Homo sapiens: one gene and its partners. The protein of the gene in region 2 purifies or fractionates together with the protein of the main gene of each other region. This does not show direct contact. Each region holds a gene or a part of one and is shown on either strand. Other genes may lie near its edges.

Region 1 (3,500 bases), on a different chromosome or scaffold from region 2:
GTTACCACACTTTGGAACTTTCCCCCTGGGATTCAGCAGTTGAGAAGCAGAGACCTTTCTGCCCTGGGTGAATGGGTCCTTGGGGGAGGGGTTGGTCTTTTGTCTCGCATCCCCATCTTTCCTTTCCTTCTGGGCCATGCTCCTCCCTGGCTGGAAAAAGGTGGCTGTGCTGTCCCTGTGATCCACTCTCAGCAAATGCGTGTGGCTCAAATAAACAAAGAACTTACCTGTTAGAGTGAAAATCCTCAGGAGATTGTACCCAAATGCCATGCTCTAAATATTCATGGTCTCTCTAATGCCCTCAAGACGTGATTTCCATGGGAACCATCCTCCCCTGGGGGCAGTTAGCAGGAGTACGTGGGGCACGTGAGGTGGTCCTCCTTTCAGCACACCGTGCCCATAGAAACTTCTAGAAATTTCTGAAAATGCTCTGTGGGCAGCTCTTGGGTGGCAGTAAGTCCATCAACCCCCATCTACCCCGGGCCTGAAGCGCTGCGCTTGCTCTCTTTATGTGTGTGCACCCGAAGGATTTCCTGGTCTCTGTAGCTGATCCTGTGAGCCCCTCAAGCATGAAGCCTCCCTTGGGGCTTCTCAAAGCATGGAGAGGGGCCCTTCCTGTCCTTTGGGAAAATCTTCCCCACTGTGTCAGTTATATGGGAACAAGAGTGATGGGGTCTTTCTCTAGGCCTGTGCCACAGGACAGAGAACACGGGATTCTGCTGTTCGCTTTGAGCCACAGCCTTTACCAGCCCGGCTTGTGTGGGGGGCCCCTTCGCCTTGCTGCAAAGAGCTGTTCCCCAAAGGGCATATCCACAGGGTACAGGTTTTAAAAAGGCTTTTTTTTTTTTTTTTGAGACAGGGTCTCGCTCTGTCGCCTAGACTCAGTGCAGTGGCGCCATGTTGGCTGGTTGCAACCTCCACCTCCTGGGTTCAAGTGATTCTCCCACCTCAGCCTCTCTGGTAGCTGGGACTACAGGCACGCGCCACCATGCCCAGCTAATTTTTGGATTTTTAGTAGAGAAGGAGTTTCACCATGCTGACCAGGCTGGTTTCGAACTCCTGACCTCAAGTGATCCGCCCGCCTGGGCCTCCCAGAGTGCTGAGATTACAGGCGTGAGCCACCGCACCTGGCCAAAAAAAGGCATTTTGATTTAGGTTGCTGTGTTTGCTTGTTGATAAAGAAAACTCAATCGGGACACTAGTTTTGTGCTCAGCTTTAGGCCGGGTAGCTAATGGGAGGATGTCCAGCCTGTCACTGTGCTCCCAGCGCAAGGAAATGGGTGCCCACCTGGAATCAGGAGAAGAGGCTTTTCCCTCCTGTTCTGCAACCAGGGTGGAGCTATCTTTCCAGGGAAGCCAGCTGAGAGGTTTTAGGGCTTTGGTTATTTTATGGGGGTTTTAAACCTCCTAACTTTTCAATGACAAATGGCTCCCAGGTGCCATAGTCTCTGTTAAATCCTCAAACATTCACAAGCACACACTGCCAGGGGCACGGGTTGTCTTTCACCTGCATGTTTCTAAGGCTCTTTATTCAATCTCACGGTGTCAGTGTCCAGTTGTCAAAGTTATGAATCTTCCTCCTGCTTCTAAACAGGGCTGACAGTATACTCTCGTCTAGTCTAGGAACATGTCTGCTGCTGGGATACCCTGGTACCAGGATTTGAGGGCCACGGGTGGCATCTCTGAGAGCTGAAAATCCACAGAGTGCCTGTGGGAAAGCCAAGCCCTTGGCTGTGTGGCTTTTCTATCCCTTGGATTTACAGGTCTGGGAATTGGCTGCTTCTTAGTTATAACCCCAGTGACAAATGCTGGCTTAAGCCACACCTGTTCCCACTGTTGCTAGAATTCAAACAGTTGCTTTTTTTTTTTCTTTTTGAGAAAGGGCCTCACTCTGTTGCCCAGGCTGGAGTGCAGTGGCTTGATCACAGCTCACGAAAGCCTCAAACTCCTAGGCTCAAGTGATCCTCCTGAAAAGTAGGTAGGACTACAGGCACATGCCACCACATACAGCTAATTTGTTTTCATTTTTTTTTTTTTTAGAGACAGGATCTCGCTGTGTTCCCCAGGTAGGTCTTGAACTCCTGGCCTCAAGTGATCCTCCTGCCTTGACCTCCCAAAGTGCTGGATTACAAGCGTGAGCCCCTGCACCCGGCCCAAGCAGTTGCTTCTTTTTTTCTCTTTTTTTTTTTTTTTGAGATGGAGCCTCACTCTGTTGCCCAGGCTGGAGTGCAGTGGCGCGATCTCCACTCACTGCAAGCTCCGCCTCCCGGGTTCATGCCATTCTCCTGCCTCAGCCTCCCGAGTAGCTGGGACTACAGGCGCCTGCCACCACACCCAGCTAATTTTTTGTATTTTTGGTACAGACAGGGTTTCACCGTGTTAGCCAGGATGGTCTTGATCTCCTGATCTCGTGATCCGCCCACCCCGGCCTCCCAAAGTGCTGGATTACAAGCGTGAGCCACCGCGCCCCGCCAAGCAGTTGCTTCTTATGCAACATGTTGGTTGGGACTTGTCCACGGGCCAGGCCAATAAAATTCTTAATCCTGCAGAGAGTCAGTACCCTCATCACCCCATCACTGGAAAACAAATGTTTTAAGCTATCAAGAGAGGGAATGTGCAGCTTTTGGTTTCTAGATGCATGGTTTGGTGTGATCTACCTTTGTGCCTAAAGGGAATGTCCCAAACAACAGAGCCTTCTTTGCTGTCACTCCAGAATTCTCTACACAGAATTTCCCAAGTCCATTCAGGACAGACGCGCAGTCCTCTTTCAATGGAAGAAGAGAGGACTTTTCCCCTCCTGAAAAATGACTGGAGTGTGAACAAGGCAGCTCTGTTTTTCTAAATAAGTTGTTCTTGTGAGTTTTTTCTGGCCACTGGGCATCTCTGCCCTCACTTTTCATCCCTGCCCTCTAAGCTGCAGACCCCATGACCACACTGTCTGCTTCCTTGAGCTTCCCGCACGAGGCTTGGACCTGGGGGACCTGGAGACCCTGCGGACAGAACTGTGGCTGAGCCACTGTGGCCAACTCTTGGGGAGCTCCACAGTGGGGGTTGCTGGTCTGTGAGGCTGAGTCTCCATTTCAGAGCACACACTCCCTGGCAGGGCGCCTCTGCCTGTGTCTCCTGCCCAGCAGCCGCCAGCAGGGAATAGTTGCTGGTGTCTGAGCACAAAGAGAGCTTTGATTACCTAGAGAGGAAAAAGGCTGTCAGCCAGATGCAGCCAGGCCCAGGGGTAGATACAGGAGTTGCTAAGGAAGGGGCCGAGCCAGGAGAGGCCAGGCAGATCCACAAAGCCCAAGGGGATGCAGGCTGGGTGTGGTTTCTGAGGGAACCTACCAAATAGCAGGTAGATGGAATCAGAGGACTCTTGTGTCCTGAAAGAACCTCCTTAAAAACAACTAAAACGAAGAACTTCTGGGGCTGTTCACACATTGTTCAAGTCACCCCAAGATCGTTCTGGCACGCTGAGCTGAACACCACCATCTTTGTTCATTCTCTCT
Region 2 (7,877 bases):
ATTCCTCGGTTCTTTCCTGGGCGAGTGAGCGTGTGGTGGGTGCCTGGTGGGGGTGGCGAGGGCTTCGGTTTCTGGACCTCCTTCCCACACCACAAAGGGCCCTGTATCTTTGAAGCCTGAAGCCCGGTCCCTTCAGGCGTATCCGGCAACAGTGGTATTCATTCATTCATTTATTGTTTGTTTGTTTGTTTGAGGTGGAGTCTTGCTCTGTTGCCCAGGCTGGAGTGCAGTGGCGCGATCTCGGCTCATGCAACCTCTGCCTCCTGGGTTCAAGCCATTCTCCTGTCTCGGCCTCCAAGTAGCTGGGATTACAGGTGCCGACCACCACGCCTGGCTAATTTTTGTATTTTTAGTAGAGACGGGGGTTTCACCATGTTGGGCAGGCTGGTCTAGAACTCCTGACCTCAGGTGATCCTCCCACCTCAGCCTCCCAAAGTGCTGGGATTACAAGCGTGAGCCACTGCGCCCGGCCATTCATTCATTTTTGAGACAGAGCCTCATGCTGCTGCCCAGGCTGGAGTAGGGTGGTGGGGTCATGGCTCACTGCCCCCTGGACCTCCCAGGCTCAAGCAGTCCTCCCACCTTAGCCTCCCGAGTAGCTGGGACTACAGGCGCACACCACCACACCTTGATAATATTTTTTATTTTTATTTTTGGTAGAGATGGGGTCTTACTAGATTGCCTAGGCTGGTCTCGAACTCCTGGGCTGGAGTAATCCTCCCACCTCGGCCTCCCAAAGTGCTAAAATTACAGGCGTGAGCAGCTGTGGTTTTGCTTTTGTTTTGTTTTGCGACAGGGTCTCACTCTGTTGCCCACGCTGGAGGGCAGTGGCGCGATCTCGGCTCACTGCAGCCTCGACCTCCCGGGTTCAAGTGATTCTCCCACCTCAGCCTTCTGAGTAGTTGGGAGCAATTCTCGTGCCTCAGCCTCCACGCCCAGCTAATTTTTGTATTTCTTGGTGGAGACAAGGTTTTGCCATGTTGGCCAGGCTGGTCTCGAACTCCTGACCTCAAGTGATCCGCCTGCCTCAGCTGCCCCCTGATATTTGTTAAGCGCCTACCACATACCAGCCCTGGGAGGTGAGGCTACAGCTGCACTGGGTGGGCTGTTTTCAAAAGACAATGATTGGGCCGGGCGCGGTGGCTCACGCCTGTAATCCCAGCACTTTGGGAGGCCAAGGCGGGCGGATCACCTGAGGTCAGGAGTTCGAGACCAGCCTGGCCAACATGGTGAAACCCCTGTCTCTACTAAAAGATACAAAAATTAGCCGGGCGTGGTGGCAGGCACCTGTCATCCCAGCTACTCAGGAAGCTGAGGCAGGAGAATCGCTTGAACCCAGGAGGCGGAGGCTGCAGTGAGCTGAGATCCTGCCACTGCACTCCAGCCTGGGAGACAGCAAGACTCCATCTGAAAAAACAAACAAAACCACAATGATTGGATAAGAGCGAGTCTGGGGTTGAATCCGGACTTGGATCCTTTGCTGTGCGTCCTTGGGAGGCTCGTCTCCCTGTCTGGGCTTTTGCAAGCCCAGGCTTGGGAGGTGGGGCTGGTGGGTCTTTCATCCTCTGTTTGCCCCTCCTGGGGCTGCAGAGTAGGTCTTGGTGGGCAGGAGGGTGCAGAGAGGACTGTCCTGATCTGTCTTATGGTCTGGGCCAGGAGGTGATACACTTCCTTCTTCCCGAAACACCCTTCTCTGGCCTTTGATGCCTGGTGAACTCCTATGTATCCTTGGTGGCCCTGCCTCAATGTCCCCTTCTCCCCAAACCCTTCCTGGTCGCTAGGCAGAGCCTCGTCCCCTCCTGTCCTGGCTTCCTTGGCCGCTGAGGGGGCAGGGAGGGCCCCACTTTACAGAAGGGGAAACTGGGGTTCAGAGATGAAATCCCTTGCCCTGGTTACCCCTAGGGGAAGAGGCAGAGCTGGGATTTGAACCGCGTCTGACGGACAGCAGGGCTCAGTGAACCAGAGCTTGACCTTATCTCCCTCCCGCAGGGTCCTGGCGGCAGAGACCACGTCCCAGCAGGAGCGGCTGCAGGCCATCGCAGTGAGTTTCCGCCGCCCCGCAGACGGTGTGGTCAGGGTGGGGAAGTGGGGGGACCTGGGGTCTCGGGCCCTGGACCTGTCCTAGGACCTGGAACCAGGGCATGGTGGGTGGTGAGTTATTTGCTTGGGAAACTTGGATCCTGCTGACCCGCAGAGAATGGAAGTGGAGACCCCCTGAGTCGGCAGCTCCTGGACCCCCGGCCTCGCTCTGCCTGATGGGTCGGTGGGGAAACTGAGGCTGGCATTCCCTGGAACCCTGCCCTCGTCCTGCAGGAAAATAAACTTTGGTGATGGGAGCACAGATGTGCTTTGGTGCCATCTTGGTGGCCTCTGGCCCAAGAAGGCCCTCTTGGTGTCCGCAGACCCCTCTCTGTGACCCGACCCTCCTGTGACGTGGCCCGATTCCTGGGTTCAAGTGACTCTCCTGCCTCAGCCTCTCGAGTAGCTGGGATTATGAGTGACCGCCACGACGCTGGGCTAATTGTTGTATTTTTAGTAGAGATGGGGTTTCACCATGTTGGCCAGGCTGGTCTTGAACTCCTGAACTCAAGTGATCCTCCCGCCTTGGCCTCCCAAAGTGCTGGGATTACAGGCGTGAGCCACCGTGCCCGGCCAGTCATTGATTTTCGAGACAGGGTCTTGCGCTGCTGTCCCGGGCTGGAGTACAGTGGTGCGATCCGCTGTCACCTGGAAGCCAGTGGGCCACGAGGATCCCCGGACAGAGGAAGCAGGATCGGGCTGGGCAGAGCCTTGTGTGGGGGTGGGGGGGTCTCCGGGACCCCCACGCCCATCCCTGACCCCACCCGGCCCTCCCCACAGGAGAAGCGGAAGCGGCAGGCGGAGATCGAGAACAAGCGCCGGCAGCTGGAGGACGAGCGGAGGCAGCTGCAGCACCTGAAGGTACGAGCGGGGCAGGGACCCAGGGTCAGGGAGTGCAGGCGGCTGTGAGGCGGAGGCCCCGGACTCCTGCCCAACCCTGACCCTGACCCCAATCCCAACCTGACCCTGACCCTGCCTCCAGCCCTGACCCTGACCCCGACCCTGACCCCGACCCCGACCCCGACCCTGACCCCAACCTGACCCCGACCCTGACCCCAACCTGACCCTGACCCCGACCCTGACCCTGATCTCAGTCCTGACTCTGACCCTGACCTGACCCCAACCTCAATCCTGACCCTGACCTTGACTCTGACCCAGACCCTGACCCCCAACCTCGATTGTGATTCTGACCTCAGCACTGATCCCAACCATAACCCTGACCCCAACCTTGGTCCTGCCTCAACCCCGACCCTGATCCTGACCCTGACCTCAGTCTTAAGTCTTAACCCTGGCCCTGGTCCTGCCCACGACTCTGACCTGGATCCCTGCTGCTCAGTCCAAGGCACTGCGGGAGCGCTGGCTGCTGGAGGGGACGCCGTCCTCGGCCTCAGAGGGGGATGAGGACCTGAGGAGGCAGATGCAGGACGACGAGCAGAAGACACGGCTGCTGGAGGACTCGGTGTCCAGGTGGGGGCTGCAGCGTGGGTGCCACCGGGCTGGGTGGGGCCTCGGGGGCCGCTGGCTCCCGGGAGGGTGTGGGCTGGGAAGAGTCGTCAGTGTGCTTTGAGGGAGATGCGTGGACCGGGCAGGCCAGGACCCAACATGCTTTGAGGGGGACGCAGGACGGGACAGATCAGGTTGGGGCATCCACCTGGGTCTGGGGCAGCTTGCTGGGGGCAGAGGCTGGCTGCGTGGCCTCAGGCAGGGAGATACCCCTTTCCCTTCCCACCGCCCTCGTTTGAGCCAGCGAGGGACGTGGCGTCGAGCTCCTGGGTCCCTGGAGCTGGCCAGCGGGGGACGTGACGTCGAGCTCGTGGGTCCCTGGAGCTGGGTGTTGCCGGCATTGGCCTCCCTGGGGGCTTCCTGGCGCCAGCCCAGCTGGCGGGCAAGCGCTCCCATGGTTCGAACGGGATGGATGCAGAGCAGCTGGGCCCGCAGGAAGCTCGGGCGGGGGCAGGAAGGGGACAGGATGGGGAAAGTGGCAATCCCTGTGGGGGCTGGGACCAAAGGCCTGGAGTTTCCGGCGGGCGGGAGGCCCAGGCTGTGCTCGGGGGCAGCAGGGTCAGGGTGGAGGGAAGTGACGACCAAGATTCCAAACGTCTGCCCTGGCCAGGGAAGGTGCCCAGAGGCGGGAGGCCGGCCGGATCACACGGACCTCGCAGGCCCTTCCCAGACGCTGGGTTCTGACCCCGTGGGGGCCCCTCCCTGCCCAGTTCTGCCCATTTGCTTTGAAGAAAGCACGTTGGGGGTGTTCGGGATGGACTTCCCTCCTGGGCAGGGCGTGTAAAGGCATGGACAGGCCGGGTGCGGTGGTTCACACCCCTGATCCCAGCACTTTGGGAAGCCGAGGCAGGAGGATCACTTGAGATCAGAGGTTCGAGACCAACCTGACCAACATCGTGAAACCCCATCTTTACTAAAAATACAAAAATTAGCCTGGTGTGGTGGTGCCCAGCCTGTAATCCCAGCTACTCCGGAGGCTGAGGCAGAAGAAGGCCAGGCGCGGTGGCTCAAGCCTGTAATCCTGGCACTTTGGGAGACCGAGGTGGGTGAATCACGAGGTCAGGAGATCGAGACCATCCTGGCTAACACAGTGAAACCCCGTCTCTACTAAAAATACAAAAAAATTAGCCAGGCGTGGTGGCGGGCACCTGTAGTCCCAGCTACTCATGAGACTGAGGCAGGAGAATGGCGTGAACCCGGGAGGCGGAGCTTGCAGTGAGCCAAGATCTCACCGCTGCACTCTGGCCTGGGCAACAGAGTGAGACTGGGTCTCAAAAAATAAATAAATAAATAAAAATAAAGGCATGGACATGCTGGGCGTGGGTGGGGCTCACACCTGTAATGCCAGCACTTTGGGAGGCCGAGGCAGGAGGATCACCTGAGGTCAGAGATTTGAGACCAGCCTGGCCAAGATGGCGAAACCCAGTCTCTACTAAAAATGCAAAAATTAGGTGGATTAGTGGCGGGCGCCTGTAATCCCAGCTACTGGGGAGGCTGAGGCAGGAGAATTGCTTGAACCCAGGAGGCGGAGGTTTCAGTGAGCCGAGATCAAGCCACTGCACTCCAGCCTGGGGGACAGAGCGAGAATCTGTCTAAAAAAGGAAGGTATGGACAGGGTGGGGCAGTTCTGGTGGGTTTGGGGCCTTGGAATGAGCCGAGTGTTACCCACTCCCTGGGCCTCAGTTTCCTCACCTGTGAACCAGGGAGGCAAAAATCCCACGGTGCGTCTTTTTTTTTTTTTTTTTTTTTTTTTGAGAAGGAGTCTCGCTCTGTCGCCCAGGCTGGAGTGCGGTGGCGCGATCTCAGCTCACTGCAAGCTCCGCCTCCCGGGTTCACGCCATTCTCCTGCCTCAGCCTTCTGAGTAGCTGGGATTACAGGTGCCCGCCACGCCTGGCTAATTTTGCATTTTTAGTAGAGACGGGGTTTCACCATGTTGGTTAGGCTGGTCTCGAACTCCCAACCTCAGCTGATCCGCCCGCCTCTGCCTTCCAAAGTGCTGGGATTACAGGTGTGAGCCACTGCGCCTGGCCCCACTGTGCATCTTAATTCCAGCAAACATTAAGCACCAGCTGTGTCCCTGGGCTGGACGGGATGTTCAGACCGAGGTGGGGCTGAGACGGGCCTGGCCCTGTCTGCAGAGAGGTGGATGGTCAGACACCTGGGCGAAGGCAGTGGGAGTTACTGGCCGTGGGGGCTGGGCACACTGGTGTTCTTTTCACGCGGCCCTAGTGGGCACAGGCTCAGGCCCCTCGATGGAGGGTGAAGACCTGGCTTGAGGCCTAGTTTGCTTTCAGAGGCTTCAGCTTCACCCCTCCCCAGGGCAGCCTGCTTCTCAGGTGCTGAAACTGAGCTGCTCTGGGTCTCCACTACCCACCTTCTGCCTGCTCAGGGGCTCTGCCCAGGCACCTCCTGCAGGAAGCCCTCCAGGCTGACTGTGGGCTCCCAGACACCTCCTGCAGGAAGCCCTCCAGGCGGCTGTGGGCTGGACCCCTCTTCTGGTTGGAGGGGACACAAGTCTGGCTCTGTGTCCAACCTGTCAGCCTGGGCCCACCTTGTTAGACTTACGCACTCAGCCCTCGTCTGTCCTGTCCTCAGGCTGAGGCTGAGCTGCCGTGAATGTCGCCCGCCCTTGCCAGACCCCGGGGCTGGGATTTCATATCCCGGTTTTGTTTTCCTGGATCTGCTTGTCCCGTTATCTCTTCTAATACTTGGAAAGTGACATGGTTTTTCCAGTTTCCCTGGTGAGATAAAGTTTCCTGTTAAAATGTGCAAATTTGAGCGGGAAAGGAGAGTTCATTTGATACAGACAGTGACATAAACAGCGCAGGCCAGGGGTCAGGGGACACAGGGAGTCAGCCCTGGTTTGGATCCCGCCTCTGCTACCTGCTGGCCATGTGGCTTTTGCACTCCGTGCCTCAGTTTCCCCCATCATGAAAGAGCACGATGCCTCTTGGGGCTGCCTGGGAGCCTTAAATTCAGAGAGCTAGGCCGAGTGCGGTGGGTCACGCCTGGAATCCCAGCACTTTGGGAGGATGAGGCGGGCAGATCACCTGAGGTCGGGAGTTCAAGACCAGCCTGGCCAACATGGTGAAACCCTGTCTCTGCTAAAAATACAAAAAATTAGCTGGGTGTGGTGGTGCACGCCTGTAATCCCAGCTACTCGAGACCCTGAGGCAGGAGGATCACTTGAACCCGGGAGGTGGAGGTTGCAGCGAGCCAAGATCACGCCATTGCACTCCAGCCTGGGCAACAAGAGCGAGAATCTGTCTCAAAAAAAAGACACTGGGGAGCTGTCGTACAGAAGGTGCCCAGAGCCCCACCGGGGATGCAGGAGTCACCCTCACAGGCACACCCTCTCCCCAGGTTGGAGAAGGAAATTGAGGTGCTGGAGCGTGGAGACTCCGCCCCAGCCACTGCCAAGGAGAACGCGGCGGCCCCGAGCCCAGTCCGGGCCCCAGCCCCGAGTCCAGCCAAGGAGGAGCGCAAGACAGAGGTGGTGATGAATTCACAGCAGGTAAGGGGGTGACTGGGGGGAGCGGATCCCCAGGCACCCACTCCCGCTGGCCCCAGAGCGAGGCCCCAGCCCTTCCATGTCAGCGTAGCTGAGGGGACAGGCACAGACTAGAGCCAGGCACTTGATTTCCAGCTCACCGGAGCCACTTCCCAGCTGTGTGAGCCGGGACACGTGGTTTCGCCTTGCTGGGCCTCGGTTTCCCCATCTGTAAGATGGGGGAGTAATCAGAGCAGCCACCGCTGGGGGCATCAGAAGGACTCAGGGAAGCAGGAGACCCACCTGGGGGCATCAGAAGGGCTCAGGGAAGCAGGAGACCCACCTGGGGGCATCAGAAGGGCTCAGGGAAGCAGGAGACCCGCCTGGGGGCGTCAGAAGGGCTCAGGGAGCAGCAGGAGACCCGGTGCTGGTGGGTGTGGTCATAGTGTTTTTTTGCTTTTGTTGTTTTTTGAGACTCGTTCTGTTGCCCAGGCTGGAGTGTAGTGGTACAGTCTGCAACCTCCACCTCCCAGGTTCAAGCAATTCTCCTGCCTCAGCCTCCCAAGTAGCTGGGACTACAGGCGCCTGCCACCATACCCGGCTAATTTTTTTGTATTTTTAGTAGAGATGAGGTTTCCCCATGTTGGCCAGGCTGGTCCCAAACTCCTGACCTCAGGTGATCCACCCAACCTCGGCCTCCCAAATTGCTGGGATTACACGCATGAGTCACCTTACTTGGCCTGGTTATTTTGTTTCTGTGTTTGTTTTTGACACAGGGTCTCACTCTGTCACCCAGGCCAGCCA
Region 3 (7,877 bases), on a different chromosome or scaffold from region 2:
CATGGGTCTGTGGTGAAGAGCAAAGAGAACAGCTATTGGTACAGGCCAGGTAGATACACTTAATGAACACAATCTCATAGCAGTGTCATGTGTGGGTCCTGCCCACATGGAGGGCTTCATAAGCCCCTAGCCCATTCCAGGGACACACACACACACACTATACACACATATATGCACACACGCACATATACACACTCACGCACATATACACACTCACACGTACGCACACGCATGCTCACAGCCTAGGCGATATGTCTTTACCTGTCTGCTTCTGACACCAGGGCAATGCGGCCATAGTCCCAGAATCTTCTTCTTATAATAGAAAACACCAAGATTAAGAACTAAAAACAGAAAAGAAACCAAGTAAAAGCATATTGGATGGCTTCTCATTAGAAGACACAGCGGTCTCAGGGGTAAAGCCCACCTGCCCGCACTCAGCAGGGCTAGAAGGAAAACACCCAGGCCCAGAGAGGGCACTGAAGTGCCCAAGGCCATGCAGCTCAGTAGCCCGGATGCTTTGCTCACCCCCTTCACCAGGCTCCTGTCACCTGTGCCCACGCCACCAAGGCTGCCAGCGCTGACGCCAAGCTTGCCTGGAGCCTGCCTAGTTCTGCACGTCAGCCCTGTCTCTTGCTCTCAAGGCAGCGGTAACACCACAAGGCCCAGTCTCGGGCCCTGCTCTGCCTTCAGTGGCCCCGAGCAGGAGGGTAAGGTCTGGCCCCAGAGCAGCCCCAGGAACCAGCATCCTTCTTCACTTTACAGAAAATTTTTTTCTTTCGGCTCACTGCAACTTCCCCTCCCGGGTTCAAGCAATTCTTGTGCCTCAGCCTCCAGAGTAGCTGGGACTACAGGTGCCCGCCACCACACCCAGCTAATTTTTGTATTTTAGTAGAGACAGGGTTTCACCATATTGGTCAGGCTGGTCTCGAACTCCTGACCTCAGGTGATCCACCTGCCTCAGCCTCCCAAAGTGCTGGGATTACAGGCGTGAGCCACCATGCTGGCCAGAAAATTTCATTTTAAATTACAGAACCAAGGTAGCAGAGCCTCCTCAGGCTGAGCCAGAAACGGTCAGTTTTTTCCTCTGAGTTTGATTCCCCTGAAGGCAGGCCCCGCAGGCCCTGCAATCCCCCAGCAGAGAGCATGCATGCAGGCAGCAAGGCACCACGAGAACCTGTGCTCGGGCTGGCTTGGCCTCCGTAAGCTGGGACACCTCAGCAAGCTTGTGTCCAATGGCAACCTCAGGGCTGGACTAAGCCGCTTAGCTCTAGACATCTGTACACTCTAGACTGTCCTCACTCCCCACAGTCCACCTTGGCAGGCTCCATGCCATGTTCCTGCCTCTCTTCCCTCCCTAGACAGGGTCCCTCTCTTTGAGGTTCAGGGAGGTAGAGAAATACATCTTAGTAAGCACATCCCTGCCTGCTCTGATCAGAAACGGGGGTTTTGAAGGTAGGCTTTGTTTTCCTAAAGGAAATCCAGAAGACCTGAACCCCAGAGGCACTGAGTTCTCGTGGAATTTTCTTCAGGTGAATCAGGAAGTTGGTGACATATTTTCAAAGGCAGGTGAGTCATGTTGTAGGAAAACCACGAAACCTGCTCAGCAGGTGCCTGCCCTCTCTGTCCACAGCGGCTGCCGCCCTGGCCTGTGCAGTGCAGACACTTCCCACAAACCCATGCTCTCCAGGGCCCTCTGGCTCTTATGTGTCCCCCCTCCCCCACCCCCAAAACTTACTGCAATAAAAATCCACCCCTGGCCGGGCACCATGGCTCACTCCTGTAATCCCAGCACTTTGGGAGGCCAAGGCTGGTGAATCGCTTGAGCTCAGGAGTTTGAGACCAGCCTAGGCAACATGGTGTGAAATCCCATCTCTACCAAAAATACAAAAATAACCCAGACACGGTGGCATGTGCTTGTAGTCCCAGCTATGCAGGAGGCTGAGGTGGGAGGATTGCTTGAGCCCAGGAGGAGGAAGTCGCAGTGAATTGTGATTATGCCACTGTACTTCAGCCTGGGTGACAGTGAGACCTTGTCTCAAAAAAAAAAAAAAAAAAAAAAAAAAAAAAAAAAAAAATTCACCTTCAGCAGCACAATAGAGGGTGACTCTCTTCTCAGCCAACACTGTTGCAACAATACCCACCCAGCCCAGCTAGGGTCCCTGCCCAGGTCCCCCTCTCTGTACTCCTCACCTTGGCCAAACTCTCCCCACCCTGAAGACCCAAGGCCACCCTCCTCTAATCCCACCAATTCTGAAATCCACCCCCACACCCCTGCCCACTCCTCCTTGCTACCCTAAGCCACCCTCCCCATGTTCCCCACCCGAGCCTAGTCTCCAGCTCCAAGCAGTCCAAGGATGTTTACTCCATCAGAGCCATCTGCCCCCTTCACTCAGATGGTCTCTGCCACATGTTAGGAGACAGTATCAAGAGGCACTGGCCAGCCCATGGCATTTGTGAAAAGAAGGGGCACTTTAACCCCAATAAATCTCAGCCAGCCAACGTTGAGTCTGCATAAGGAAGAACAATGCCATGGGGCATCTTTGTGAACAAGGAGATCTACGTTAAAGAAAGGCCACCTGCTGAAGGTACGCTCTAAGAATCAGCTTCTAATTCTTTTTTTTGTTTTTTTGGTTTTTTTTGAGACAGCGTCTCGCTCTTGTTGCACAGGCTGGAGTGCAGTGGCGTGATCTCGGCTCATTGCAACTCTGCCTCCCAGGTTCAAGCAATTCTCCTGCCTCGGCCTCCAGAGTAGCCGGGATTACAGGCGCCGACCACCACACCCGGCTAATTTTTTGTATTTTTAGTAGAGACAGGGTTTCACCATGTTAGCCAGGCTGGTCTCGAACTCCTGACCTCAGGCAATCTACTCGCCTCAGCCTCCCAAAGTGCTGAGATTACAGGCATGAGCCACCGTACCTGGCCCAGCTTCTGATTCTTTAAAAACCCCAGGGATGCCAGAGGGGAACAGGAGGTGACACTTGGGAACTGCAGCTGCTCTATTCTAGTCCGTACTCTCCAGTCACATGTCTCAACCCCTTGAGATGACCCTTCCCAAGGGCCTTAAAGATACGACAGGCTGAGAGCTCTGCAATCACGGTAGTAATCACAGGCATAGCTATATGAGTATTCTGGCCTTATCCAAATTCCAAAATTCTCTGAGATAGGAATTATGATCTCCATTTCCGGAGCAGAAAGGGGAGGTGCACAGAAGCTAAGTAACACGCCTAAGTCACAGAGCTGGTAAGCAGCAGAGTTGAGATTTAAACCCAGCTATGTCTGACTTCTCATCTAAGTTTCCCAGAAGGCCCTGGGTGGGGCATTTAAACAAATAACTGAGGCAGTGGGACACGACTCATGAGGGCTCTCACCAGGAAGCAGCTGACGTCTATGAGCAGGACAGTGGGGATGCCACCAAAGGTGACCCCCTGGAGCACGGTGCTGTTTTTGGCCGAGTTGTAGCAATAGGAGTCGTTGGGCCGGTCCCCGAGTCCCAGCTGCTCCCTGATGGACACTGCCTTGGACTGCCACAGCTCCAGGAACGGGGAGTCCATCATCGCGCCTGTCTTCCCTGGAGCACAGGACAACAGGACAAGGCAGACGTTCAGGGCTCAAATTTCTTGCAGGTTCCCACCAGTGCTGGCAGAGCCAAAGGCAGGCGTTTCCCAGGGACTGATCGGGCAGTGAGCCAGCAGCAAGGAGTCCGGGAGAGCCAGACATTGGACCTCTGCGTGCCTGGCAGTGTCCACAGAGAATGGCTGCATTGTGGGACAATCTCAGGGGATCAGATGGTCAGAGTGGATGGCTCATCCAGGACACAGTGGGCAGATCCCCAGAGGGGGCGACATGGAGCAAAGGAGGGACAGAGTTGCTGCAGCTGCTGTCTTAAGAAGTCCTAAAGTTCCTCTAGCCTCGAGGACTCGTGTTGGGAAAGTCACTCCTGCAGAAGCCACTGGCGGATCTAGAGTACAGGCAGAGGAGAGGGAGAAAGGCACACAAAGGCAGGAAGAGGAAAACACCGGGATAAACAACCAGGGAAGAAGGGAACATCCAAGTATTCACGATGGTCCATCCACGAGCCACAGACAACACCTCACTCCCACTGCTCACAGAATGTCAGAGCTGGGACCTCAGAGATGGGTCCATCTGCTATACTTGGAAACCAAGCCTCAGAGGTTTAATAACTTGCCCCAAAGTTAAGGTTAAGGAGCTGGTCAGGGCAGAATTGAATCCCAAACCCAATATCCTGACTCTCAGATGCCACTTCTCTTTTTACTTTGCCACAGAGGAGAAAGTAAAGGGGGTGGTCTAGGGTAGGGACGGGGAGGGAGTCAGGAGTCCCAGGGCCTCCTCAGGGACCTCTGGGTCCCCTAGCTCTGCGCTTTCACACACACATACCCCTCCTGGGTACCATCAGTCTAACTGCAAGGCCCAGCATTTCCAAAGCAAACACTGCTCCAGGCTGGGTTGTTGACCTTTCCTTCCTGAGGCTCCTGGCGCCCCTGGTGAAGCTAATAGAAATCTCCAGTGTCTGTCCCCTGACACCAGAGGACCGGGAGTTAGTGTCCAAGTTCTCATGCTGTGGCTGAAGGGCCAGAACACATATTCAGCCTGGACTTGCTTAAGATCCTACCTGCCCAAATCTGGTAAATCTAGAATTCCCAGGGGATTTTTCTGCTAAGTCTGGTGCTTCTAGCTGTTACAGGGACAAAGATCTTGAGAACAAGAAGAAAAGATATAGAGAACCCAAACAGATGTTTGGATACCAGTAGTGCTGGTGAGGTGTGTATGTTGGGTAACCCCTAGGCCTAGAGTGCTGGGGACAATCACACATGGACACCTACCTACCTACCTACCTACCTACACACACACACACACACACACACACACACACACACACGAAGCACAGGAAGCATGAATGAGTGGAAAGCCCAAGAACATGGGAGCATCCCACAGACAGCCAAGTGACTTTCTCAACCTTCTAAGAGACTTGGCAATGGCTGGAGGTAGTGGGGGTTGTGATGCCAGAGTCATGGGGCTGCTGACTCTGAACAGAGTGTCACAAGAGTGACCTCTGGAACACAGATGTTCTTGGCTTCCCTTTAAAATCCCCCAGTGGCACCACCCAATGGAACACACCAGCCCAACACTTCAAGGCCACCACCTACCCCTCCTCCTTCCTGTCCCCACACTTACCAGACACTAGGGGAAGGAAGGACTGTGGATGGGCCCGTTGGAGAGGTCCTCAGTTGGAGCTGTCTCTGGCAAAGGCAAAAGCAGCCCCAGCCACCTCCCAAGCTGCCAAGGGCCAGGCGTCGGGCCTAACACTCATGTCCTGCAGGGCTTTCCTGACCAGCGAGTCCTGGGGTACCAAACTGTAGACTTTCCTGAAGGATCACAGACACCAAGCATCACATGGGAGCCACCCTTTTCCAGTGTAGGGGTCTGGATGGAAACCCTCCAGCACACACCTGTGTATGCATGCTGCCCATATGGACCTTTAGGTTCTGCCCAGTGGGCTCCCTCCTGCCTTGATCTCTCCCCAAACTCCCAGAACTGGTTCTCCATCCATCAGTGCTCCTCTGTGCGACCCTACTCCTCCTTCCTCGGCCAGCACCACCTGTGGCCCCAGCCTCTCTCCTCTTTGCCAATGGCTCAGGGACCTGCTGGGTCTAGGGGAGCAGCCCTCTCCCACAGAAACCCTGGAGGTTGTGGGCTCACGGTAGGGCCCCAAGCAAAGGACTTCACCTGGGCCCCAAGGGCCAATGCTACTGGGGAGGCTCCCCAGGGTTCCCCAAGAGCTAGAATCAGGAAAAGGGAACACAGCAGCATGAACAAGGAAGGCTTGAAATGTGAAGTGGAAAGAAAAAACATCCCCATAAAATGCTCACAGAGAGAGCATTGTCCCTGGAAAGGGGAGGGTGCTGTGGTGGTGCTGGGAGTGGCATACCCTCGCCAGTGCTGCAGAGGAGAGAGGCCTCTGCGGAGGGAAACACCTGCGGCTCCTCTTCCCCCTCCCTCCAGCCCCAGTCATGCCTCTAAGTTACTTGTCTCTTGCCAAATAGGCTTCCCAGGGTGGTTTGACAAAGTTTGATATGAACTCAGGGAGGTGGCTAGCAAATACTATCAGCCTGAGACGGAGGTAAGGTCAGGTGGCCAGTCCTGTCTGCCCTCTCCGATGAGCACCCAGGTTAGGGTAGAGCTCTGGGGACCCACAATCTCTCTCAGACCTTTCAGCTCAGTCCCAGCCTGTCCCTGCCCATTAGACACATAAAGTCCAGATCCCCCTGAAACAGCTCCGTCCCTCTGGCTCTCCATGGGACAGCTCCTCTGCATTTTCACAAACAGGCACGCTCTGAGCAGGCAGCTGGGAACACAGACACCATGGGACAGTGCTGCCAGGCTGAGGAGAAGGCAGGGGGAGGGGAGCACCCAGCTGGCAGCTGTATAGAGGAGGCCAAACCAGCAGCTAGGCACTGTGGTTGAAGTGGCACTGCCTGGCTGAGAACCCCTGGCAATATTCAGTCATCCTAGATGTATGTGAATGCCTAGCACTTACCTGTGCCTTCCAGAAATTCTCCATTCATCCCCTTATTCCTACTCAATATGCCGAGGGTAGGAAAGCCAAGAATTACTGCTGAGGCCCAAGAGCCAGAGTGGGCAGCAGGTGACTTCACGCTCCCAACCCAAAGTTCAACCCATGTGCAGGCAAGCGTCTGATTGTGGCCAGTGGGAGAGGGCTAAATCCAACAGCTGGTCTAAATTTGCCAAAGTAAACTACCTATGCTAATCCACTGCCAGTCTCCATTGGCAGCAAGGACTGGCCTGGTGGTCAACTTGACAAGCTCTAGAAATACCAGCAGAATGTTGCAGGAAGTATATGGATATTGTTCGTTCTTGCAAGAAGGCCCGTACAAATTCAGGGTAATTTTATCATCACCAAATCTTTCAATCCTGTGATGACAATAGCGAAACTACAAGCAGCTCCAGGCCTTCTGCCTCAGGAGCTAACTCTGGTCTTTCAGATGCAGAATAAGGTTGCAAAGTAAAGTACAAACTTCTCCTTATGGCAACACCAAACAGGACCCAGTAACCTGGACAACTGTTTACCTCCTACCCTGGAGCACAAAGGAAATGACACAGCCCCTGGCTGAAACCAGAGGCAGTGTGGCTCAGGGATTATGTGAGCAGGCTCTGGAGTTAGGGTCTCAGCACCACGCAGTTCAGACAAGCAGCCTAACCACTCTGTGCCTTGGCTTCCTTCGCCAGGAAATGCGAGTGATGACTTTCTCTCACGGAGCTGTTGGGAGGCACAGATCCCAAACAACACCTGTAAAGCACTTAGCCCAGGACCCGGCCCTAGCAAGCAATTAGAAGCTGTCTGCCTTTATTTTAAGTCGCCCCTCCAGCTAATGGGAAACACAAGGGCAGGATCCCACCTGACGTCTTCTCTGTTAGAGCCCAACGAACAGCTAGGAGAGACCTTTGCCCCCACACTAAACAAAGGAGAGGGGCGTGTGAAGGGAAAAGGAGCCTCGGCTTCCGTTCATATCCCCCTTGAAGGCACAGCAGACTTGAGGATGACCTGAGAGGTGTCAAGGGAGGGTCAGTGGGTCCGCCACGCTGTCCACCCCTGCCCTTGAAGAGGACACCACCTGCCTGGGGCTGAATGACCAAGGCCCCTCCAGGGCCTCAGGTAGCTAGTCTTATCAGGTGCTGGAACCTTTGCGGATTTGGTTTCTTAGCAGAGCTCGCCTCACCCTTTCCGCCCCCGCCCTTCCCCCCAGTCCCCGAGTCCCCAGCCTCCCTCCTCAGGACTCCGCCAAGGCTGCAGGAAGTGGTCACCCAGGAACAGCCCGAGGGGTGGCCTCTGCCTTCCT
Region 4 (7,877 bases), on a different chromosome or scaffold from region 2:
TCAGGAGGGAGCGACAGAGTCATGGTTCAAGCTCAAGTTTTCTTATGGGATCTGGAGCCAGACAACCTGGACTCTCAGTAGACATGTGATCTTGGGCAAGAAGCTAACCTTTCTGTCTCAGTTTCCTCAACAGTCAAATGGGGATAATAAAAGAACTTGCTTCATACAGTTGTCAGAATTAAATGGGATAAAACATGTAAGGCTCTTAGAATGGTGCTGGTACATGATGAGTACTCAATGAATAGCAGCTGCTCTTATTCTTACCATGACAACTGTGTATGGGATCATTGGGAAGATGAAGCCATGGCATGTAAATAAGCCTTGAGCTTTTCAAAATTACCTACAATGAGCCTGCATGTGTCTGGAAACAATGCCAAGATGAGGGACTGAAAATGAGAAGACGTTCATGTGTTGAGAGGAAGGGATAATAAGAATCATTCTGCTTATTTAGATTAGATATTTATTAGCAAGATGTTAAACTATTATCTTTAAAGGGAAGTGGATGGCTGCTTCCATCCCAGGAGCACCCAGGCTCACTGAAGTCAGTCTGGCAGCATGGCTTTTCTTGTCCCCAGATAAGCTGGTATGGGGAGAGGGCCAGTGGCAGCTCCCATAGGTTCCCAGGGAAAACATGTCAAACACTCTTTCCAGATGACACCCCTGAAACCTGCATCTACTCCAACTGGTCCCCATGGTCCGCCTGCAGCTCCTCCACCTGTGACAAAGGCAAGAGGATGCGACAGCGCATGCTGAAAGCACAGCTGGACCTCAGCGTCCCCTGCCCTGACACCCAGGACTTCCAGCCCTGCATGGGCCCTGGCTGCAGTGACGAAGGTGAGGAGACAACCCAGACCAGCCAGGGGCTGGCAGGAGTTCAGGAAGGGAGGGTCTGCCTAGCAGTCAGACAGTGTCCCTGGTGAGGGCACAAGGACCCTGACAGTAGATGTCAGTGGGGTCCACCTTGGGCAAACTCCTATCTGCAACAGTGTCTTGAGGGCTCTGAACACAGAATCTCTCTTATATCAAAGGAATTCTTGAGATTGACCACCCCCTCCTTCTTTTACTGAAGAGCTAACAAACATAGATACAACTTATGACAAGTTACAGATAACACATAGCCTGCTTCTGGGCCTTAACTCCAATCTCTTCTTAAGGAGCCTGTTAACAGTCAGCCCAGATTGAATCTAGATCCATTGCCCTAATTCTGTCATTTACAGCCCCTCATCTGTGTTCCACCTCAGCGTGAGTCAGAGCACTCTCACTTCTTTGTGTCAGGACCTTTGGGCTGATTGCAGAAATTCTCAGTCTATTTGCAACAGTGCAAAGGTCAGCCTTTAAGTATAATCTTGCAACACCTATATCATGATGGCTCAAGCTTCAAGATTGCACTAAGCTGATTGCTGTGCAAAGGTCAGCTATCTGCTTCCCAAGCCATGACCCCTTTCTCTGCCTGATAGATCTACGCTATTCTGCCCTGATCTTATAGGATGCCATAAGGCAATGGGAAGGCACTGTATAGGCTGGACTGGTGTATGGCAGGGAAAAAAACCACTTCCAAGCCGAGGATAAAGAAAGCAAGCTTATCCCATGCAGGTCATTAATTCCTTGGCTCTGCCTAGAGGGAGGCTCTTAAACACCTCTCCCAGTGTTGCACTTTCACGATGGTTTATTGCTAGCTCATTTTGCCCACAATAAGCACTTTGGAGGGGAGTAAACCCTCCCCGTAGACTAAGTCATTCCTACAAACAGGCGGGAGGAAAGCTGGGACTGGCCTGTCAACATTGAAGCCTCTTTCTTGGGGCTGGGACTGGGGAGCTAAGCTGAGGAGCTGAGGTCCTTAACCTCCCCTTCCACAGGGAAGGATTGTTCCTCATACAAATGGATTATGATTTATCTTAAATTATATGTAGATTAAATTATATCTTATCTTAGATATATGCGTGTACATTTTTTAAACACCATCCTTTCCATACAAGCATCTTTCGAATGTATTTTCATGAGATAAAGAGTAATTCTGAGTGTCCCATGCACCTGGAAAAGAGGCATTTCCTCTTAGAGAACTTTGCCAGTTTAAGGATTTAGACCTCTTAGGTGTGCAGACAACCTCAACTGCCTGACTCCTCTTGATTCCCGCTGGCGGGAAGTTCCCACCGCGCAGCCTGGCAGGCGCCCCTGCCACCGTGCACTGCTGCAGCGTTCACTCGGTGTGTTGCAGACGGCTCCACCTGCACCATGTCCGAGTGGATCACCTGGTCGCCCTGCAGCATCTCCTGCGGCATGGGCATGAGGTCCCGGGAGAGGTATGTGAAGCAGTTCCCGGAGGACGGCTCCGTGTGCACGCTGCCCACTGAGGAAACGGAGAAGTGCACGGTCAACGAGGAGTGCTGTGAGTGGGGGCCCCGGGCGGGCAGGCGGGCAAGTAGGTCGGGGAGGCAGCAGGTGCGACTCCAATGCCGCTGGCCTCCCCAGCTCCCAGCAGCTGCCTGATGACCGAGTGGGGCGAGTGGGACGAGTGCAGCGCCACCTGCGGCATGGGCATGAAGAAGCGGCACCGCATGATCAAGATGAACCCCGCAGATGGCTCCATGTGCAAAGCCGAGACATCACAGGCAGAGAAGTGCATGATGCCAGAGTGCCGTGAGTGAGAGCGGGGGTGGACTTGGAGGAGGCCACTGGGGACAGGCGTGGAGGGCCATGGCATCCACTATTACCACCATAAAGGTCGGAGGCTGAGCAGAGGAAAGCATGGCCCATGGTCCTTGCTGGGCACTGCTGGGAGCCAGATGAGAGACATAGGTGTGTAGACATCAACCAGACCCAGAGAGAGTAACCTCCACTGGGGGACATTCTAAGCAATGCTGGGGTGGCAAACTGGTGGCCTCTGGATAGAGAATTCACCTGCAGCTGTGTTTTATAGGAGTGTCTTTCTTGCAGTGGTGGGGAGGAGGGCCAATACATTTAGGCGGGACATACATTACCCAGGTCCAGCCCACTCCTCCCACTCCTGTTGTACATTGGACTTGGCTGATCCCATAAAGCATGACCTCCCCTGCTCTGTGCACAAATGCATATGGGCCTGCCCACACATTAGTATGCAGATGTATACAGGCACACAAGTATATACACATTCTAGGGAATTCAGGACAATGTCCAAAAATGCATCCCTGAGCCTCTCCTTTAGTGCCTGATTCTTAGTGAGTGTGGGATGTTTCTGTCTCTAGGAAGACCCTGCTAAGATCCTCAGTGGCCTTTCTAGTGGGGACTTATGTAGTCATATTGCTACCCTCATGTCATAACCATCGGGGGGGGTCAGCAGGGAGATGAAAGAGAGTGAAAAGAAGAGCAGTAGGCTGCTGAGCCACTTCTTGCTCCATAGATTTCACTCTTATTTGAACCCATGGGCCAATTCCACTTTATTCCAGGGGCCAAAGCAGGGGACTCGGTGTGGAACACTGTGGGGTCAGGGAGATCAACGAAAACAAAAGGAACCTGTTCTCAGTGGCAAACCTGGTTCTTGATCTAGACACCATCCCATGCTTGCTGTCCCCATGGTCCGAGTGGAGTGACTGCAGCGTGACCTGCGGGAAGGGCATGCGAACCCGACAGCGGATGCTCAAGTCTCTGGCAGAACTTGGAGACTGCAATGAGGATCTGGAGCAGGTGGAGAAGTGCATGCTCCCTGAATGCCGTAAGTCCTGGAGCTCCTCAAGGCCCATCACTTCTATGTTCCTGAGTCCAGGGAGCCCCGAACCAGCCAGTGCTAATACTGCTAGATCCTAGAATAACATGGTTTGCTGGGGAAGAGTTTGGGGTTTGGCTTTCAGTGTTTGCAGTTACTTAAACACTGCAGTCAGTTTCATTAATAAAGTGAGAATCCCACTACCGTCTACAGAACACCCAAAGTTAAGGTTCCTGTGAAGTCTAAATGACAGACACATACGAAAAACAGCACAAAGCTCAATAAACCTTAGTTCTTTCCCTCCTCTCCCCCAACAATTATAGGCTTGCCTGACCCATGGATTTTCCAAGCATTTTAATTCTATTTTCCCTGTGACCATTTTAATTCCCCATGACCAGAGGCTGGACATTAAATCAATGACTCCTGCAGACTGGTAAGAAAACCAGCAAGAAAACAAGCCAAGTTCTCAAAAACTCACCCCACCCCGCTCCACTCCCAGTCCTGTTTTCCAAAGTCTCTGCGATCAGCTGTTTATATTACATGGGACTAATCTCCAAGCAGAGCAAGCCAGTTTCCTTGGCTGGTCTTCCAAGAGCTGCTTTTTTGGGTGGTAAAAGGGCAGGCACACTGGCTGTGGCTCTGGCCCCCTCCAGCATGTACTTGCAGTCGTTCATCCTCCCTCCCCTAGCTAGTAACCTTCAGCCGATGACTCAGCACCTCTGTTCCTCAGTTTCTCCATCTGTAAAATAGCAGGAAATACTTCCTAGGTTGCTCTGAGGATGAAACCAAGTAATTGGTCCAAAGTATGAGCACTGGACATGGCAAGGATAGGCCTTACTTAATCCCTGCTCCATGCTCCAGCTCCTGGGTTGTTTTAGGAGACTCAGCCATGGGTGGAGGTAACTTGGACCACCCACTAGAGAAAGCCTGGGGTTTTCAGTAACTAAGATTGGCCCATGGTTCAGGCCAGCTCACCAGAGTTGGGGCCCCATAGCCTTCTGACTTAGAGTGCCTGGGGTCCACTGAAGTAAGGGAGAAGAAAATGAAAATTTATGGAGCACTTACAGGGCTGGGAGCATCTCATTTAATCCTTACAACCTAATGAAAAAAAAAATACCATGATCCCCATTTTGCAGATAAGAAAGCTGCCTGAGCTTCCACAGGCGGGATAAAAGAACTGAAACTGTTGAACTAAATGAGGACATCTAAGTCCACCACCCTGACTTTGGCCTTGCAAGACCAACAGAGAGCTTGGAATAATTTACCTCCCTGGGACACATCCTGACAGTCAAACTGATGTGTTATTTTCCTTTCACATTTATGAGATGCTGGCTTAGTAAGAATTTACTGGATCTCGATAAACCATAAAGCACCACTTGCTCCTGACCCTCTTCTCTACTGAATGTCCCATTTCTGGCTCCTGTGTTTTTTGCATAGACCACCATATATAGAACACAGGATGATGTTGAGAATGAAAAGCTGCCAGGGTGTGTTAGAACCACAATGTCCTTGGTATTGGTCCACAAGGGTCAGCCGCCTTTAGCTTGTTGACTTGTTCTCTCCAAAGAGCAGCAGGGGGCTTGCTGGCCTTGCTCTGAAAAATATCACCAGTGAGTTTGGGACTGTGGGAAGCTATTCTGTACTTGAGGCTGATCTGACAATATTCTAGTTCACAGAGCAGGGCAAGAGGCTCTGAACACATCCTGAAAGTCCTCCAAAGCCTTCTTGAGTCATAGAGGGAGCATAGAATGGGTGATGACCTGGCACCAATCCTGCCTCTGCTGCTTACCAACCACACGGGCTGAAGTCAGCCTGCCTCTTTGGAGCCTCAGTTTCTTCTTCTGTAAAATAGCATGACACAGCACCTGCTTTGCATCCCTCATAGGCTTGTTGAGATGTTCAAAGGAGAGCGTGACCATATCTTGTTTCAGACATGTGATACACTCATGCCCATCTGTGTCTTGCCAGCCATTGACTGTGAGCTCACCGAGTGGTCCCAGTGGTCGGAATGTAACAAGTCATGTGGGAAAGGCCACGTGATTCGAACCCGGATGATCCAAATGGAGCCTCAGTTTGGAGGTGCACCCTGCCCAGAGACTGTGCAGCGAAAAAAGTGCCGCATCCGAAAATGCCTTCGAAATCCATCCATCCAAAAGCTACGCTGGAGGGAGGCCCGAGAGAGCCGGCGGAGTGAGCAGCTGAAGGAAGAGTCTGAAGGGGAGCAGTTCCCAGGTATGGCTCCCAAGTGTCAGCCTGGGTGGTCTCCAGGACAGGCAGGGTTCTGCACTGGGCTAAGTCTTGGACCTGTTTAAAAAAAAAAAAAAAAAAAAAGTCGGGGAGAGTCTGCATCTTCTGGAGTCTTCAGGCCACATTTTGATTCTTTAGATCCAAGTTTGTTCCCAAATATTGAGCAAGCATAATTTATAAAGGAGATTGGCGGTGGGGGTCATTTATCAAAGAACATTTAGATAACCTAATTACCTGCCAAAAATAAATTTTCAAGCAAAGAATCTTTAGGAATTACAGTTCCTTCTTTACACACATATAAAACCAATAATGTGTCCAACTTTGCTCAAAGTCAGTTATGACTTAGCAACACCATTCACTCCTTGCAAAGAGGGAAAATGATACAGATGTGTCAAAGGAGTCTTGTCTTGTTCATCATTTAGGGAATGTTCCTGAGAACCTCCCAGAACACATCATCTTCCATTTTAAGGGTGTGGCTCAGACAAGGCAGCCGTGGCCTGAGACTTTATGATTTTTTTTTGCAAGGCTAACCAGAAGTTTATCAGCAGTGTCATGTCAGCCTTGAGTTTTATTTCCCCAAATAATATTGATCCAAGCTGACAAATAACTAATAGAACAATGCACCAAGTGCTCAGGGAGCTGAGGAATGAGCATCATCTTACATTGACTGGAGTTCAGGGAGATGTCAGAGCAGGGAAAACTAGAGTGGGTCTTGAAAAATCTAGAGGAGTTTGCCACTTAGAAAAGTACATTCCAGGCCGGGCACGGTGGCTCATGCCTGTAATCCCAGCACCTTGGTAGGCCAAGGCAGGCCAATCACTTGAGGTCAGGAGTTTGAGACCAGCCTGGCCAATATGGTGAAACCCCATCTCTACTAAAAGTACAAAAATTAGCCGGGCATGGTGGCGCACACCTGTAATCCCAGCTACTCAGGAGGCTGAAGCAGGAGAATCACTTGAACTGGGGAGGCAGAGGTTGCAGTGAGCCAAGAGCACACCATTGCACTCCAGTCTGGGCAACAAGAGTGAAACTCCGTCTCAAATTAAAAAAAAAAAAAAAGAAAAGTACATTCCAGGCAGCAAGAATAGTCATTACAAAGGCACAGAGATGCCAAAGACCATGATAGGTCCAAGTGATAGGTCCAAGTGATAAATGGGATGCAGATGAAGCACAGAGGACAAGGCAGGCAGGAAACCAGGCTGGGAAGGCAGGGACCAGACCACACAAGGCCAGTGGCCCACCAAGGATTTTGGGACCTGATTCTGTAGGTGGTTTTAAGCAAGAGGGTGACTGTATCAGACCTGTGTTGACTGATTTGGGGATGGCAAACAGACACAGAGGCCAGATAGGTTTTATTTGTAACCCAAGAGAAAGATTATACATCCCCAAACTCCAGCTTAACTTCAGAGTTCCAGGACTTCAGAAGAAAAAGAAAATGCCTGCCAGGGACTTCAGTGCTGAAGGTGCCCATGTAAAAAAGTGAAGATTAACATGTACATCAAGTTTTCTGATTTTTAAAGGCCTATTCTTTTTGAAGCATGAGGATCTCCTTGATGGTTCAGGATCCTTATGATTAGGGAGCTGTTTGCATATCAAAGTGCTGTCTGTTCTACATGGTAGTCAGCCAGTCAACAAACATTCATTAAAGCCTACTATGTGGCAGGTACATAGTTGTACGGTACATTCCTCCATGACTCTTAGCTGTAGTGTGGTTAACAAATATCTCATGTGTAACCATAAATGTGGTGGGTTCTATAAAAGAGGAATCTAGAGTGCTATGGAAGCAGTAATCAAAAGATCTAACCTAATTAATCTCTGGGGTCAGGGAAGTTTTCTTGGAGAGCAGCATGTTTATGCTGAGTAGGAAGAACAAAAATTGTACTTCTCTATACTTAGCATTTGGGAGCCAAGTACTTGGGGAGTAAGGCATAAGAGAAAGTGGTTTAGTGTT

Evidence for each region.
Region 1: the proteins of PALM (region 2) and SLC24A4 fractionate together in Homo sapiens (co-fractionation; one large-scale study listed by BioGRID). This does not show direct contact.
Region 3: the proteins of PALM (region 2) and TMEM63A fractionate together in Homo sapiens (co-fractionation; one large-scale study listed by BioGRID). This does not show direct contact.
Region 4: the proteins of PALM (region 2) and SPON1 fractionate together in Homo sapiens (co-fractionation; one large-scale study listed by BioGRID). This does not show direct contact.

Annotation. Positions count from the first base shown.
Region 1 is NC_000014.9:92,497,665-92,501,164, forward strand, and holds part of SLC24A4 (sodium/potassium/calcium exchanger 4 isoform 1 precursor), read left to right. Parts: 3' UTR 1-3,500. UniProt on the Homo sapiens protein: Calcium, potassium:sodium antiporter that transports 1 Ca(2+) and 1 K(+) in exchange for 4 Na(+).
Region 2 is NC_000019.10:724,149-732,025, forward strand, and holds part of PALM (paralemmin-1), read left to right. Parts: intron 1-1,989; coding exon 1,990-2,041; intron 2,042-2,859; coding exon 2,860-2,940; intron 2,941-3,415; coding exon 3,416-3,546; intron 3,547-6,946; coding exon 6,947-7,097; intron 7,098-7,877. UniProt on the Homo sapiens protein: Involved in plasma membrane dynamics and cell process formation. Isoform 1 and isoform 2 are necessary for axonal and dendritic filopodia induction, for dendritic spine maturation and synapse formation in a palmitoylation-dependent manner.
Region 3 is NC_000001.11:225,874,027-225,881,903, forward strand, and holds part of TMEM63A (mechanosensitive cation channel TMEM63A), read right to left. Parts: intron 5,385-7,877; 5' UTR 5,194-5,384; intron 3,569-5,193; 5' UTR 3,555-3,568; coding exon 3,369-3,554; intron 342-3,368; coding exon 262-341; intron 1-261. UniProt on the Homo sapiens protein: Mechanosensitive cation channel with low conductance and high activation threshold. In contrast to TMEM63B, does not show phospholipid scramblase activity. Acts as a regulator of lysosomal morphology by mediating lysosomal mechanosensitivity.
Region 4 is NC_000011.10:14,257,065-14,264,941, forward strand, and holds part of SPON1 (spondin-1 precursor), read left to right. Parts: intron 1-651; coding exon 652-834; intron 835-2,215; coding exon 2,216-2,386; intron 2,387-2,469; coding exon 2,470-2,637; intron 2,638-3,523; coding exon 3,524-3,688; intron 3,689-5,647; coding exon 5,648-5,911; intron 5,912-7,877. UniProt on the Homo sapiens protein: Cell adhesion protein that promotes the attachment of spinal cord and sensory neuron cells and the outgrowth of neurites in vitro. May contribute to the growth and guidance of axons in both the spinal cord and the PNS.